2 separate regions of the Homo sapiens genome follow, and region 1 is linked to region 2. A link means that fine-mapping ties the variant in region 2 to the expression of a gene that starts in the linked region. Tissue or cell type: whole blood. Region 2 holds a variant in brackets; the other region holds the start of a gene. All regions are shown on one strand. Distances are from middle to middle.

What was found. PIP is the estimated chance that this variant, and not a neighbour inherited with it, causes the effect.
Region 1: it holds the start of NT5DC2, and the variant in region 2 is fine-mapped to the expression of NT5DC2 in whole blood (INTERVAL, PIP above 0.99).

The regions. Positions count from the first base shown.
Region 1 is chr3:52,530,616-52,537,225 of GRCh38, forward strand. NT5DC2 (5'-nucleotidase domain containing 2) reads right to left here and starts at 3,242. Exons shown (of 14, transcript NM_001134231.2): 1 at 2,891-3,242. The coding sequence starts at 3,122. It overlaps UQCC5 (ubiquinol-cytochrome c reductase complex assembly factor 5), which reads left to right and starts at 5,990. Exons shown (of 2, transcript NM_001124767.2): 1 at 5,990-6,291. The coding sequence starts at 6,141. RefSeq lists enhancers at 2,352-2,481, 6,309-6,610 and silencers at 2,612-2,701, 2,732-3,081, 3,142-3,641, 5,676-5,975.
Region 2 is chr3:52,477,893-52,485,716 of GRCh38, forward strand. It overlaps NISCH (nischarin), which reads left to right. Exons shown (of 21, transcript NM_007184.4): 10 at 205-390; 11 at 557-685; 12 at 1,857-1,970; 13 at 2,292-2,403; 14 at 6,621-6,745. Among named protein-coding and RNA genes, the nearest start is that of STAB1, 14 kb to the right of the region's middle. The variant T/C (reference allele first, on the strand shown) is at 3,625.

The sequences.
Region 1 (6,610 bases), 52 kb after region 2:
GAGGCGAGAGGATTGCTTGAAACCCAGTAGTTCAAGACTGGTCTAAGCCATATAGCGATACCCTGTCTCTGTGAAAACATTTTTAAAAAGAAAAAAAAAATTGTACCAACCTACAGAATTACTAAGACTGTCATATGGAAGGTGCTGCTCTGTGCAGCAATCTCACTCTGCACCTGCACATATGCAGGATTAAATGGGTGATATGTTTCCTGAGCCTATGAGCATCCTGTCCCCAATTTCCCAGTGTCCCTCCAGAAGCAGGGGCTGCAGGGAGAAGGGAGCAGGCAGGACTAGATGTACAGGGTACATCTAGTACCCCTGCCTTGCAGGGGCCCCAGCTCTAAGACTCCAGGGGATCCCTGTCTCAGCCACAACCCCAGTGCCGATGACAAAGCAGGAGCTGCCAGGCCAGAGGGCCAGGGAAGCCCCACAGTGTGCCTGGCAGCTGCTGCACTCAAGAGGCAGACATCTCGCTGATGTGCTCCGTGCCCAGAGCACTTGCCTCAGAGGCACTCTGGGGACACAGGGCTCCATTCCCACCCCTTTCCTTTGGAGCCAAGTTCAGGGTGTGGGTGGGGGATCAGGTGTGGCTGGTTCCCCAGGCCAGCACAGAGCGGCTGCTCCGAAGATCTGTGGGTGTAGACAGGAGTCTTCACTTGGATGCAAGTGAGACAGTTGACTGCAACGCTCTAGGGAGCTGCTTCTGAGCCACCCCTCAAGGCCCAGGGTTCTGGTGTGTCACTAGGACCCTGGGCCTTGCCCTTCCCATGGCCCTGAGTTCCCGGATACCAACTGTGACTGTGACTCTTGGTGCAGAAGACCTGGGAGGGTCTGCTCGGCAGTGCAGCCCCTTGCTGGCACAGAGTCCTGGTTAGGTCCAGGCCTTCACCTCTGCCCCTAAGGATGTTCCCAGGGGCCCAGGGGCAGACAGTCCTCCCAGGAACAAAGCAGGATGTGGAAACAGCCACAGGGCCTGGTGGCCTGGCCTGATTTCTAGACTAGAAGAACCTTGGCTCTGGGGCGACAGAAGCCTGTTCCCTTCCATAGGTGGTGTGGGTGGGGGGTGGGGGTGGGGCAGCTGAGGGTGTGTCCCACTCAGCATGTCCAGCAATTGCCCTCCTTTCTCCTCAGCCCTAGCTCCCACACCTGCCCATGGTGCCAGGTCCCAGGGCCAACTGCTCCCTAGCAGCCGTGACACTTGTGGATGCCTTAGAGGCTTGTCTTGTTCAATCCTCACTCCCATCCTGTGAGGCAGTCCCACTTATTCCCCCATCGTCCGGAGGAAGAAACTGGGGCTCAGGGAGGTGAAGTCACTTGCTCCAAACCACCCAGTAACAGGCACCGGGGTTGAGATCACCATTCAAGTCACCCCACCTGCATTAATCACTCTGCCTCTCAGCCTAGCCTCCCAATGTCACCACACTGAGGCCAGGTGGGTGGGGGCTGGGGGACTGAGGGACCTGTTGCACTGCTCTCAGCCCGTGGGCATTAGCCCAAAGCGGACCTCGGCGCCCAGAGGTGTGAAGCTGGCTCCTGCTGGTGCTCACCATGGGATCTTGGTGGGAATGACTTTGCTCCTTGTATGACAAGAGGAGCTTAGAGGGCTGTGAGGCTCCAAAGATGCAGGCAGGCCCAGGAGGACAATGTCCAGTAGATCCCCGTAGTCCTCCCTGAAACCTCCAAGGCAGGCTTCTCAGGATACTCTGAGGGTCTTCTCCGGGCCCAGAGCAAAGACTTCTTAAATAACGCTGGGCCGCCCCTCCACAGACACAAACTCAACCTGGGACCTCGAGGGTGGACAGATGCCCAAGGCTTCAAAATGACCATTCCTCAGGGGCCTTTACCATCCTGCCTTTACTGGTCAAGAAGTGATTCTCCGCCACCCCACAAAGCCGGAGTGAAAACCCCTGTCTAGCCAGTTAGAATCTTCCAGACAGGGCTACTTTGTTTTATCAGACAACAAAAGCCACGTCACCCCTGGGGGTTCCTCCGGAAGCTCTCCTGCCCTGCTTGGCCTGGTTCCAGTCATCACCCAACCCTGGGACAGAGAGGCCCCAGGACTGCGTTTCATGCTTGAGAGAGGGTGAGACTTGCTGGGGGACCACCCAACTGGTCAGTGATAGGGTCACGACCCAAACCATATCTGTCTGCTGCAGAAGCAGGGCCCCACTAGACCCACGGAGACAAGCAGGCAGATGTCCAGCACTCTCAGCTCTGGGGCCTCACTAGTGCGCCCCAGCCGGCCCCCTCCAAGAAGGGGCCTCAGCCTCCTCACGCCATTTCTCAGAGGGAGAGAGCAGGGACAGGGAGGTTAAGTGCCCTTTGCAGCCCTAGTCTGGGCTCCAGGGGGCGGGGGTGACTTGGCTTCTCCCAGCCTTCGCTGCCCGGGCTGAGAGGGGGCCGGACCTCCAGGGCGACATCGAGGTGTGTCTGGGAAGTCCAACCGGTGTCCCCTTTGGTCCGGCCGTCCCTAGGAGCCCGTTCCGCCCGGCGCCGCTCGCTGGCTTTGTCCACAGCACTCTCCCGCCCCAACTAAGGGTTGGCCGAGAACAAGGGGTTGGGGGCGTTTCCACCGCGGCTTCACGGCAGGCGGGACCCCGAAGGAAGTCGGCGGGGGCCCAGCACTCCGGCAGCCGCTCGAGGAGCCCCGAGCTCCTGCAGACCGAGCCGGGGAACAAACCTCCCGCCCGCCCCCGGGCGTCGGGGCGCCCCAGAGGCCCCCGGGATGAACGGCCGGAGCTTCTCGCGAAAAGCCGCCCGGCCCTTGCGCTCCGGGGCCCTGGCGAGCCCCACTGGGTGTTTCCCCGGAGGAGCGGCACCCTGGGGCTCGGTCCGTCCATCAGTCCACGCGGAAGACACCCCGGCGCACGTCCCGCCCCGGCTCACCCACCGTGCACCAGTCTCCGCATGTCCTGGTAGCGAGCCCATAGGTGCGCGCTGAGGTCGGCGCCGCTGGTGGGTGCCTGGGCGGGCGCGGAGCGCGGGACGCCGGGGCAGTGGGCGCCGGGACCCGGGGGGCCGCACCCAGGGCAGGAGGGCGAGGACGAGGCGGCTCGCGGCCCGCCGTGGCCTCCGCACAGCAGCCAGCGCCGAGCGGCCGCCCGCAGCCCCGCACCCGCCATGCCCACCGCGCGCCGCCCGCCGCCCGCGCTGCCCTCGGCCAGCCCGCCGCCCGCCGCCCGCCGCCCTCCGACTGCGCGCCCGCCACGGTGGCCTCGTGCTCCTCACGGCGGCCGGCCAATGGGTGCGGCGCGCGGAGCCCGGCCTGCCAATGGGCGCGCCCCTCGGCCCGGGGGGCGGGAGGCCCCGGACCCGGCGGGGCGGGGCGGGGCGGGGAGGGCTCCCCAGCCCCCTCCCCCAGCCAGTCTCCGGCGCGGTCCGGGAGGACTCTGCGCCCCCCTTCGGCCGTCACGCCGGCGATGGCGGCGCCTTTCCCTGGCCCCAGCCCTGGAAGTCAGCGGGCCTAAGAGCGGCCGTCCCTGAGAGGCTCCGGACGGCCGAGGCGCCGAGAGGAGACAGCCGGAGCGCGACGGGTACCCCCCGGGCCCCCGGGTCCTCTGCCGCCCTCTCCGCTCCCGGGTCCGCCCGCCCTACCCTGCGCCTCTGGATGCTTCTGACCCCAGATCCTCCGCTCCTCCCCCTAGTCCTGGTGCTCTCCTTTCCCGGGGTCCTGGTCCCCGGTCTCTGGGCTCGGACTGACTGCCCACTGACCAGAGCCCGGGCCAGTCCACTCACTGGTCTAACAAATAAAGAGCCCTTCCCGCGCTTCCCGGTGCCAGGCCCACGCTGGGGGAGGCCGAGGGGCCTGCAGGGCAGCCGACGTCCGCTAACCAGGTGACTGGGCCGTGCGCTGCAGGGTTGTGGGCCACGGTCACTGCGCCCGCTTGGTTCGGACCTCGGCAACTGGCCGCACTGACCCGTCAACTCCCGGTTTCCCGGCGCACGCCCCTCGTGAGATGCTGTGGTCTTTTCTAGCAACGTCGACAGGCTTTCCAACAAAATTCCTCTTTCCTGCGCAGAACCGCTCTCCACTCGCATTTCTTCTGCTCAGATCCGTATTCCGAGCCCGCACGCATACCAGGCTGTGCTCAGGGTCCGGAGGAGGCCGACCCAGTAGCCGTGGGCCCTGTCGGAGGGGAGCCAGCTGGGCGCGCGTTGTTTTCTGAGGTGGCCGCGCTGTCTTTCAGGGTGTGTGTACATTCGAAACTCCACTGAACCTTGATTGAAGACCTACAGTGTGGCAGTCCATGGCCTGGGGACTGGTAAGGATTGAGGCCGTAGGATGGGCTCGAGTGTGGCGGTGTCCCCAGGGCCCCAGTGAGCAAGTGGGTGTGCTGGGAACCTGGCCACAAGTGAACCTCCTCCAGGCGAGGGGATGCCCTGCAGCATCCAGCCGTCAAAACCTCCTGTAGAAACGGGAGCGAGCATCAAGCCTGTGTGTGTGCATGCTTGGGCGGAGTCTACCCGGAGGAGAAAGAGGCTTCCGGGCTGGCCCTCCAAAGCCGGTTGTACAGGCGGCAGCTCAGGCTGCTCACTGCGGGCCCTATGACCCTTTCTGGGGCCCTGCTTGCTCTCTCCAGTCTGCTTTTGTATATTTTGTGTCCATATCACCAAATCGTCTCATTGGTTCTAAGCTTTCATTTACCTTCCTTAGATTGTCTAATAGTTGTCTCCTTTCTCAAAGCTGTTCCTGCAGTTTTTACTTTAGTCCTAGGTAATGGGGTGACAGCCCCTTTCAGTTATCTTCAGCAAGCACAGCAGCATGAGAAGACGCAATTACAAGTGAAGTCTCTTAAGTCAGAGCCCTGCTTCTACCTGGCATAGTCTCTTAAACTGTCAGTTAAGAGACTACATATAAACAATACACGTTCAGACTCGGCGCGGTGGCTCACGCCTGTAATCACAGCACTTTGGGAGGCCAAGGCAGGAGGATCTCTTGAGCCCAGGAGTTTGAGACTAGCCTGGCCAATATAGTGGGACCCCCATCTCTACAAAAAATTAAAAAATTAGCCGGGCGTGGTGGTGCACGCCTGTAGTGGTGGGAGGATGGCTTGAGCCGGGGAGGAGGGGGTTGCAGTGAGCCGAGATTGCGCCACTGCACTTCAGCCTGGATGACAGAGCGAGGTCCTGTCTCAAGAAACAAACAAAAACCATGTTTGGGAATACATGTGAAGAGCGAGGGCTCTGCCAATCATTATCATCATAATGAATATTCTAACTAATATTAATCAGTTACTATGCTCCAGGGTTGTGTTCAGTGCATCATTCCTATTACCGCACTAAATTATCACAGCGTCAGAACAAGGCCTCCGTTTTACGGCTTAGGGAATTGAGGCACAGATGGGCTAAGGGAGCACCTGTAGAGCAGGGATGTGGTTTGGTAACAGAGTGCATGCTCTTTATACTGCTCTTCTGCGATTATTGTGAATAAAGCGCCTACAAGTGCCTGTGGAACTGTAAGTGCCCCATACAAGATAGCTTTTATTAATTTTAGGGTTCTCACGGGGCGCTTACTTAGATTTTTGCTGTGATAATTGATAAAGTTCAGCTTTCAACACTCCATATCAAATTCTGTTACTTTAGAAGTCTAGGCACCAATCACGTCTCCGAAATAAACGCAAGGCATTGCATAATTGCATTTTGGAATGTGGTGCTGTACATAGTCCATCAGAGAGGGTCATCACTTCTATCTGGGTATTAGGAATAAAAATGGCGGTGGCAGAGTAGGGGGCGCGGCTGCCAACTGCGAGCTCAGACCTGCACTGGGGAGGCAGGGGGCGGGGCCGGGCCGGCGCCACGTGGGCTGTCCTTCCCTTTTGGGCCGTCCCACCTCCAGAGCTGAGGCGCCTGCGCCAGCTCCTTCGAGGCCCTGCTCGGCTTCAGGGAGCACGCGCGCCCTGCCGTGCTCTGATTGGCGGAGCTGCACGCCCCCGCTGCAGTCTGATTGGCGGATCCGCCTCGCTTTAGAAGGTCGGCGCCCAGTTCCGGCACTCGTGCGCCTACCAGACAGTGGCGGAGGACGGCGCTCGCTAGTCTCCCAGGTCGCGGTACACGGCGAGAACGGGCGGGGCGGTCTCGGCTGCGTCCGGGCGATCCAGTGCTTAGTTCCGTCATATCCCTCTCCACGACCTCGGTCGAGCATGTTCACCAGGGCCCAGGTGAGACGGATTCTGCAGCGGGTGCCCGGGAAGCAGCGATTTGGCATCTACCGGTTCCTGCCCTTCTTTTTTGTCCTGGGAGGAACGATGGAGTGGATCATGATTAAAGTGCGCGTGGGCCAGGAGACCTTCTGTAAGTGAGGGGGTAGCAGTCTCTGTTTCCTTTCAGGAAGGCACGAGGCGGTAGGGATCCGTTTTTCTGGGGAGTATTCTCAGATTGCAGACCGCGCATTCCACTCAGAGCGCTGGGCGAGTGCAGTTCCATTCGCTTGGCAGTCAGGGCGGCCTGGCTCTCCTGTAGGCCGGGCACATTGGCGTCCAGCCTTGTGACCTTCCCTGCACTTACAGGCGAGATCACGTGCTTCTTCCAGCCCTCTCATGCCTGCCCTTCACCCCTGCCGGTGACATCGTTTGGGCTTAAGGAACAGACTTGCTCACAACAATCGTAGAAG
Region 2 (7,824 bases):
GCCCACCCCAACTGTCTGCAGGGGTGCCACTGTGCTGTGGCATGTGCGGCAGAGAAGAGGGACTTCCCTTCCTAAAATAACTGTCAGAGTGACTTGCAGAACTGGGTAGTTTGGGTTGGAAGGCCCATCCTGCCATTAGTGTCAGGCCCCTATCTTTGGAGACTTGACCTGAGCCACTTTACGCTGTTCTCCACGCCGCTGCAGCACCTGTATAACCTTGTGCATCTGGACCTGTCCTACAACAAGCTCTCCTCCTTGGAAGGGCTTCACACCAAGCTGGGGAACATCAAGACCTTAAACCTGGCAGGCAACCTCCTAGAGAGTCTGAGTGGCCTGCACAAGCTCTACTCACTGGTCAACCTGGATCTCCGGGACAACAGGATCGAACAGGTGAGCCCAAGGACCTCACAGTTTTGGGATTTCTGTGCCTTGGTGTGTATCATGTTAAAGAAGAATGTTAAGATTCCTTTCATTTAAAAGAGACCATGAAACGTGTTGGCGTGTTGCTGAAGTGTTAAGAGAAGGGACCAAAGGGGATGGAACTCATACCTTGCAGATGGAGGAGGTCCGGAGCATAGGCAGCCTCCCGTGTCTGGAGCACGTGTCTCTGCTGAACAACCCTCTGAGCATCATCCCCGACTACCGGACCAAGGTGCTGGCTCAGTTCGGAGAGAGGGCCTCAGAGGTGAGCCCCAGCACAGTCAGAAGAGCCCAGGGAGACCTTCGGGATGCAGTCAAGTCTGCATGGGCGGTAGGGGGATATATGTCCATTGTTCTACCCTTGCCTGCTTCAGAAAGAGGTCCTGTCCCTTAGGGGCTTTTCAGTTCTGGGAAGTCCACTATCTCCCCAGGAAAAAGCTCCCTTGCATCTCCTGCCCCTACTGTCTGGGATAACATTGTTTATTCTAGGAAAGGGTCAGAAATAAGATCCTTAAAATATTCATATCTCCTGGACAACCTGTGGCCATAGTGCCTGACTGTAAACCCAAAGGGTTTGCCTTTGCCAGTGTAGCCCAGCCTGGTGTCTGCTGCCCCTCGCGGTGTCTGTGCACCTGCCACGATGCTGACCAGACACCCTTAACCAGGTTCACCCATCGCCTGGGCCTGGAGCAGTCCCCGTGATGCTCTGATTGGTCCTTGGACCTTCTGTTCTCCCAAAATCCCAGGTCAGAAAATACCTGGAAGTCTATTTGTGTCCCACCTCCCTCTTTGTGGCCGCAAGTGCCCCTTCCTCCACACAGTCACAAGACCATGAGATGCCATCTCCTCCCCTCCTGGGCTGCAGACTTTGGGAAGCTCCCAGGCCACAGAGTGTCAGCTCCTGTCCAGGCCCTTGGGACCTTCCCTCATTCAACCACCCTACCCAACCCCCCACTGCCTGCCAGCCACCACTCCCTCCCACATTTGCAGGCGGGGGCCCTGCCCTCTCCTGCCGCTGGTTCCCCTACCCAGGAGGCTCTCCCATCGCTCTTTTGAGAGTCTGCCTCCCACCTCTAACTGGGGGCTTAGTTCAAGTTGCCCCCTTACCCTAGTCCCAGCTGCCCAAGAGCTTGCTGCCTCCTGTTCTTGGTGAGGGACTCCAGAGACAGATGTGAGACCTCCCTGGACCCCTCCAAGGCATTCCCAGGTCACTTCCATGAGTAGTGAAGAGCCGCCTCTGAGCAGGCTGAGCCTCCCTCAGCCTATGGTGTCCTCACGTGGCCTGGCCCACAGCAGGTGCTCACGCCTCCTCCTCAGCAGAGCCCTACCATCCTCCTGCCATGCTCACCAGTCCCCATGCTGATAGCCATCACCAGTCCCCATGCTGATAGCCATCACCAGTCCCCATGCTGATAGCCACTTTCTGGATGCTCTAGGTCTGTCTGGATGACACAGTGACCACAGAGAAGGAGCTGGACACTGTGGAAGTGCTGAAAGCAATTCAGAAAGCCAAGGAGGTCAAGTCCAAACTGAGCAACCCAGAGAAGAAGGTGGGTTTGTGTGGCAGGTGGGAGGGCAGTGGTGCAGAGCCAGCCGGGATAGGAGCCAGTTTGGGGGGCTTGGGCCATGGGACTGCTCAGGGCTGCCGAGTCCCAGCTGCGCCCCTCCCTGGCTGCATGACCTCGGGCAAGTCGCGGCCTCTCTGTTCTCTGTGGGGTGGGGACAGTGGTAGTTCCTGCTCTAAGGATATGATGAGACCATCTTTACCACCCAGTTGGTGGGAACCGTTGCGCTCCCTCCTCACACCCCTGGCCTTGGGGAGCTCTGTGCTTCCTCTTCTCTCCCGGGCTGACTCAAGCACTCGTCCTCAGGGTGGTGAAGACTCCCGGCTCTCAGCTGCCCCCTGCATCAGACCCAGCAGCTCCCCTCCCACTGTGGCTCCCGCATCTGCCTCCCTGCCCCAGCCCATCCTCTCTAACCAAGGTAATCGTGTATGTATCTTGCTTCTAGTGGAGCCACACAGCCCTGCCTGGGCCCCCTGGCTGGGCTGGGGTTGGGGGAGAGGTGCCAGCACCTGCTTCCAACAGGGTCAGACACAGGGAGGGCAGTGCCTTCTGCAGGCTGGTCCTCGCGGGGGGACACATGGCAGGGGTGCCTGGCCTGATGCCAGCTGTTGCTTGCTTGGTGAGGACTCCCAATTGCTCTGATGCCCACATCCAGCTCCTCTAGGAGACCGCAGGGTGTCTGACAGGCCCTGAGGCTGCCCTCTGAACAGGCTCGGGGCTGTTGGCTCATGGGACCCATTCCCTCACCGGCAGCACAAGCAGGTTGGCTCCTGGTTACAGGAAGCCGGGCTTGTGACTTTACTGTCTGGAGCCCGAATCCCTGTGCAGGGAAAAGCTTGCTTTTATCACTGCCTCATCTCTGTGGGGTGACCCAGCCCCAGAACACCATGTTTGTGGGGCCAAGATGGGCCATCTCTGTCCCTGTGGACCCATGGAAGACCAGGCCCATTCGTCTGCCCACTATCTTAGCGTTTTCAAAGGGCTTTCACCTCTGAACCCAGGCATCCTCGGAGATGAGTGAGTGAAGCAGGTCTCATGAGCGTGTCTGCTGGCCCGGCCCCCACGGAAGAGGGGAGGGTGTGCCGTCCCGAGTGGAGCCGAGGCTCGGGACACGCAGGAAAGGACGCCGCCTGCCCGGGCTCCTGGAGACGCAGAACTTGGTGTGAGGTCTTGGGAAAACAGTTCAACCCGATGTTTTAAGAGCCAGAAAAACATTCCCACCCCTTGACCTGGTAACCCCACTGGTGGGGATTTTCTCTTAGAGGGATAAGATACCGGGAAGGGGAGGTGAAATGCTCACCACTGCCAAAACACGGGCTGCAACTGCAACATCGGAGGATGAGAGGGAGAGTCGGCTGTGGTGCAGAATGCTCAGCAGCCCTCCCAGCAGGGACAGGAAGACTGGGCAGGAAGAGGGGAGAAGCATTCAAGTTAAGGCAAAAGGCCCAACGCAGAGCAGCACACTGAGGTCACACCTGTGAGATGTGGAAGAGAATTCCTGAGCGTGGAGCGATGGGGTTAGGTGCCAGGATGATTGCCCATTTTGCTTCTGTCAGACTCTTGACTAAGGATTTCTGGTTGCATTTTATTACATAAAAGCCAGGGAGGTTATATCACGGTGAGAAAGCTTCCCTGACGC[T/C]GCCTCCTGTAGCGCAGCCAAGCGAGCCTGTGGAGGTACCATATGACTGTAGGCCTCTGGGGACAGGGAGCTGCATCTGCTTCTCAAGGCCAGGGACACAGCCATTTCTGCCAGCATCTGTTGATCAGTGAGTGAGTGAGTGGGCAGGTAGAGCAGGAGCCAGTGAAGAGCAGGCCCTGGATGGGTGGGGATGCACCATGTCCCCAGGCTGCAGCTGCAGGCAGCCCCCCACATTGTCGGAGAAGCCTCTGCACCAGCTCAGCCCCCTCCTCACTCCCCTTGTGCCCTGGGGACACTCTGCAGAGGGGCACTCTGCAGTCTGTCCCCGCCATCGCTGGACTTCTGGACATGGCCTCCAGATTTGCACCTCTTAAATAAAACTGCAGTGGATGTCTTTGTGTGCACCTCTCTTTCCTTTTGGTGAGAAACAGCAAAGATCGGACCCCTAAGGACTCTCCTGATGTCTCCGCTCTATCCGCTGAGTGCCCTTTCTGACCACTTGTTTGTACAGGCCACGGTCCAGGACGGGAGCAGATAGACTGTCCCTGTCCCTGTCCACATTTCCTTGGTCCAAACAGGGCTTGTGGGAGGTAGTGGCAAAAGGTGTTGGTCTTTTTCTCACTGATTTGGAGGCCTCCCCGTGTGTTTTTTCAGCCGCGTGTTCCTGGGTCTTGCCTGGATGGACAGGGTTTTTTAGCGCGTGGGAGCAGCTTTGCTGACCCATGCCTGTTGCTTCCAGCCTGATTCCCGAGAAGGGAGCCTGCTTGCGAAGGAACTGGCACTCGGGCCTGCCTGAAGGGGGCGCTGTCCAGACAACACCCAGCCTCCCGTCGTGGCAGGCGCTGTCGGAGCCATGGATGATTGTGACCAATAGGGGTGGTCGCCAGAGTTGATTGTCCAGCCAGGCCCAGGGGCTGAGAGGAGGCTGTGTGGAGAGGTGGTTAGGAGCCAGGGCTCGGTCAGCTGAGTTCGCATGCCAGCTTCCTAGCTGTGGGACCTCAAGCAACTTGTAGCCCCTCTGAAGCTGTTTTCTCAACTGTGAAGTGGACGCACCCTACTTCATTGATTCTAAGAGGCACGCATTTCCACCTTGTGACTTCTCTGAAACTGAGGTGCGTCTTTCAGTCAGTGGCGTCTCATAGTCGCTGTCAGCCAGCTGGTATTCGAGATGGAGTCGTGGAAAACCCGTGGACACCTTCCGCTAGGACCAAGATGGCGCCACCTGCCGCATCTTAGATTTGATGAAATGTGGTAAATAACGAGAGGCATGCATGAGCGAATGCTGGGGAGGCGCTTGGCACTACCCAGAGCTCCACAGAGGTGGTCGATGAGGGCTGCCCTTTCCCACATCCTTAGTAGGGGGTTCAAGATGACCCAGACTGTGCCCCTGGGGAGCTTGGAGCCATGCGGGAGGATGAGCCATGTGCTGGAGGAGAACAGGGTAGGATGGTGTGGGGCTTTTGTAGACTGTCTAGAGCAGAGAAGGTCTGCAGTGGAGGTGGTGTCTGAGGTGAATCTCGAAGGTGAATAGGAGTTGAACGTTAGCAGGCAGAGGGTGGATTGCAGGAGAGCAGCGGCCTGGGCAGGTGCCCAGCGTGGCCCATCAGGGTGCTTCATGCATGGCTGTGTGCTTGCCATCCTTCCTGCCTGCCTACCCCCTGCTGCTTCGCTTCGTGGGGGCGTTTGAGCTTGGGCCCACCTGCCTGCCTCGCTTGTGGGCAGAGGACCCAGGCTGTGTGAGTTGTCCTGTCCCGGGGAGCAGCTGAGCTGGTCGGGGGTCTCGACCTGTGGGGCTCAGAGGACTCGGGGTCATTTCACTGGGCTGTGGCGATGCTGGGCTGTGGAGGTAGGCCTAGGGCTCCTGTAGGCCTCAGTGAGACTGGCGGCCGATGCCCAGTGTTCACCCTGCTGGCGGCAGTCAGGAACATGTTCACAAAGGCTTTACCTTCAAGTGGTCTAGAGGTGATCTGAGGTGGAGTAACAGGTCCAGATAGGCTACGTTCATAAAACAGCTTCAGCGGGGTTTAGGAACACTGTGCATTTACGGGACGCAGTGGGTCAGAGTGCTGCTGTCCGTGGGAGGTGGCCCCAGGGCAGGTCAGTGGGCACGTCCTGTGGTAAGTGGGACTGTGGATGTGGGCTCAGGCTGGACTCAGCAGCCCTGCTGGATACCAAGGCCTGCAAGGGCTGGCCCCCTGGTGAATTGTCCCGTGCCCTGTGTATCTATGAGTCCTGCAGAGATGACAAATCAGGGGACGGGGTCATGTCTAGTCACCGTCTGGGAAAATGCTCCAGGAGTGAACACATTTCAGGCTCTTGATGGATGTACCTCCAAACTCTTCTCTGGATGGGTGGGCCAGCTTGCATGCCTGTGCCGGCCTCTGCCCAGCGAGGTCAGGGCCAGGCCACACAGTCAGTCTGACTTTGGCAGAAGTTGAGAGGCAACACTTGTCTCTTGTTTCAGCTTGCCTTTCTTTGTGTACTTCTGAGAGCGAGCATTCTTTTCATGTTCTATCCGCTGGCCGTTCTTCTGCGGAATGTCTGTTCACGTCCTTTGCAGTCTGTTAATGAGGTTTCCAACCTTCCCTCATTTTTGTAATCTGTAAGAACTTTTTACAGACTAGCGATATAAATCCTTGTCAAATATTGCAAACACTTTTCTCATTTCATCTGGTTTTAATCTATCCTGGTTTTTAAAAAATGTGTCTGTGGAAGTTTAATTTTTATGTAGTCACATCTCAGTTTTTTTCCATTGCATTTATTCTCAGAATGCTTCTCCCTGCCCTGAGATTAGATAAGCAGTCATTTGTTCTTTCTTGAGTTATTTTGAGATTTCAGTTTTAACATTTTCTTCTATAATCCATGTGGCTGGGTTTTGGGATCTGGCTAACCCCCGCCATGCCAGTAGCCTGAGGGGCCCAGCCCCACTTGTTGAACAGCCGCTCTCCCCGCCCCACCCACCCTGCCTGCCTGCCCACCCGCCCTGGTCTCTCCAGGAATCATGTTCGTTCAGGAGGAGGCCCTGGCCAGCAGCCTCTCGTCCACTGACAGTCTGACTCCCGAGCACCAGCCCATTGCCCAGGGATGTTCTGATTCCTTGGAGTCCATCCCTGCGGGACAGGTAATGCCCTCTTCCCGCTTCTGGGGACCATACATCTGTGGGTGGACTCTTCTGCTTGGGGTTGTGTGCAGTAGGAAGTGGCCTAGCTGGAGCTGAGGCAGATGCTTCCAGGGTTTGGCGTCCTCTGCTTTGTGCCACGGTCTTTCTCTTGGACCTGTCTCTGGTTGAGTGTCTTCCTGACAAACACAGTGGTTAAGGGTTTATTTTCAGCCTCCCTCCTTCCCTTCCCCACCCACCTTGGTTGATGGGAACAGGCAGTTCTCTGTCACTGGGCCCAGGGCACGAGGGGGGCAGGTGGAGAGGGTGGCCCTTGACCCTGTGAGCAGGCTTCCCTGGGGAAGGCATTTCAAAAGACCCTCGTGCAGGGGCTTGTTTGGGTTTCTTCTCTGTTTCCTGGCACCCCTGGAGCCACTCGGCGCCTTTCCGCATGTCACCCTGGTGGTCTGGGAAACAGTCTCACTCTGGCGCCTCCTCTGTGGTTGTTACTGAGAGTTCTGGGGCCCCTTCCTTTGTCCTGAGGAAAGACAGGAGGAAAGCAAGGGTGCTTGCTGTGTGCTTCGCAAATGTGCTTGGTGCCTGGGCCTCCCTCCAGCCCCATCTCTGCAGCAGCACAAGGTTATGGCCTTGTGACACTGGGACAGTTTGCAGAGTCCTTGTCTGTCCTCAGTACTCCACAGTATTCTGCCATCACCCTTTCCAGGGTCACACAGCAAGAGATTCCCAAGCCCTAGGTATTCCCCAGTGCACAGAGACCATTGGGAGGGACTTGCCAGGGCTGTGTCCACTGCTGGCCAGTTAGGGTCGGACCAAATTTGTAGACTGTCTACCTGGACCCTTGCGTGGCACAAGGAGCAGTCAGATGCTGGATCCCTGGAGAGTGGCGAGAGGCTCTGGCCCTAGGTTGCGAGTGGGAATCCCAGCCCTGCTGTGTGCTGGTGGGATAACCAAGTGGGTCTCTGCCCTTGGGTCCCAGAGTGGGCCCCAGGGTCCCAGAGTGGGCTCCAGGGTACAGCGTGGGGATGGGGAGCCTCCTCAGGGCGGTGATGGAGGGCAGAATGCCCAGCTCAGGGTCTGGCAAC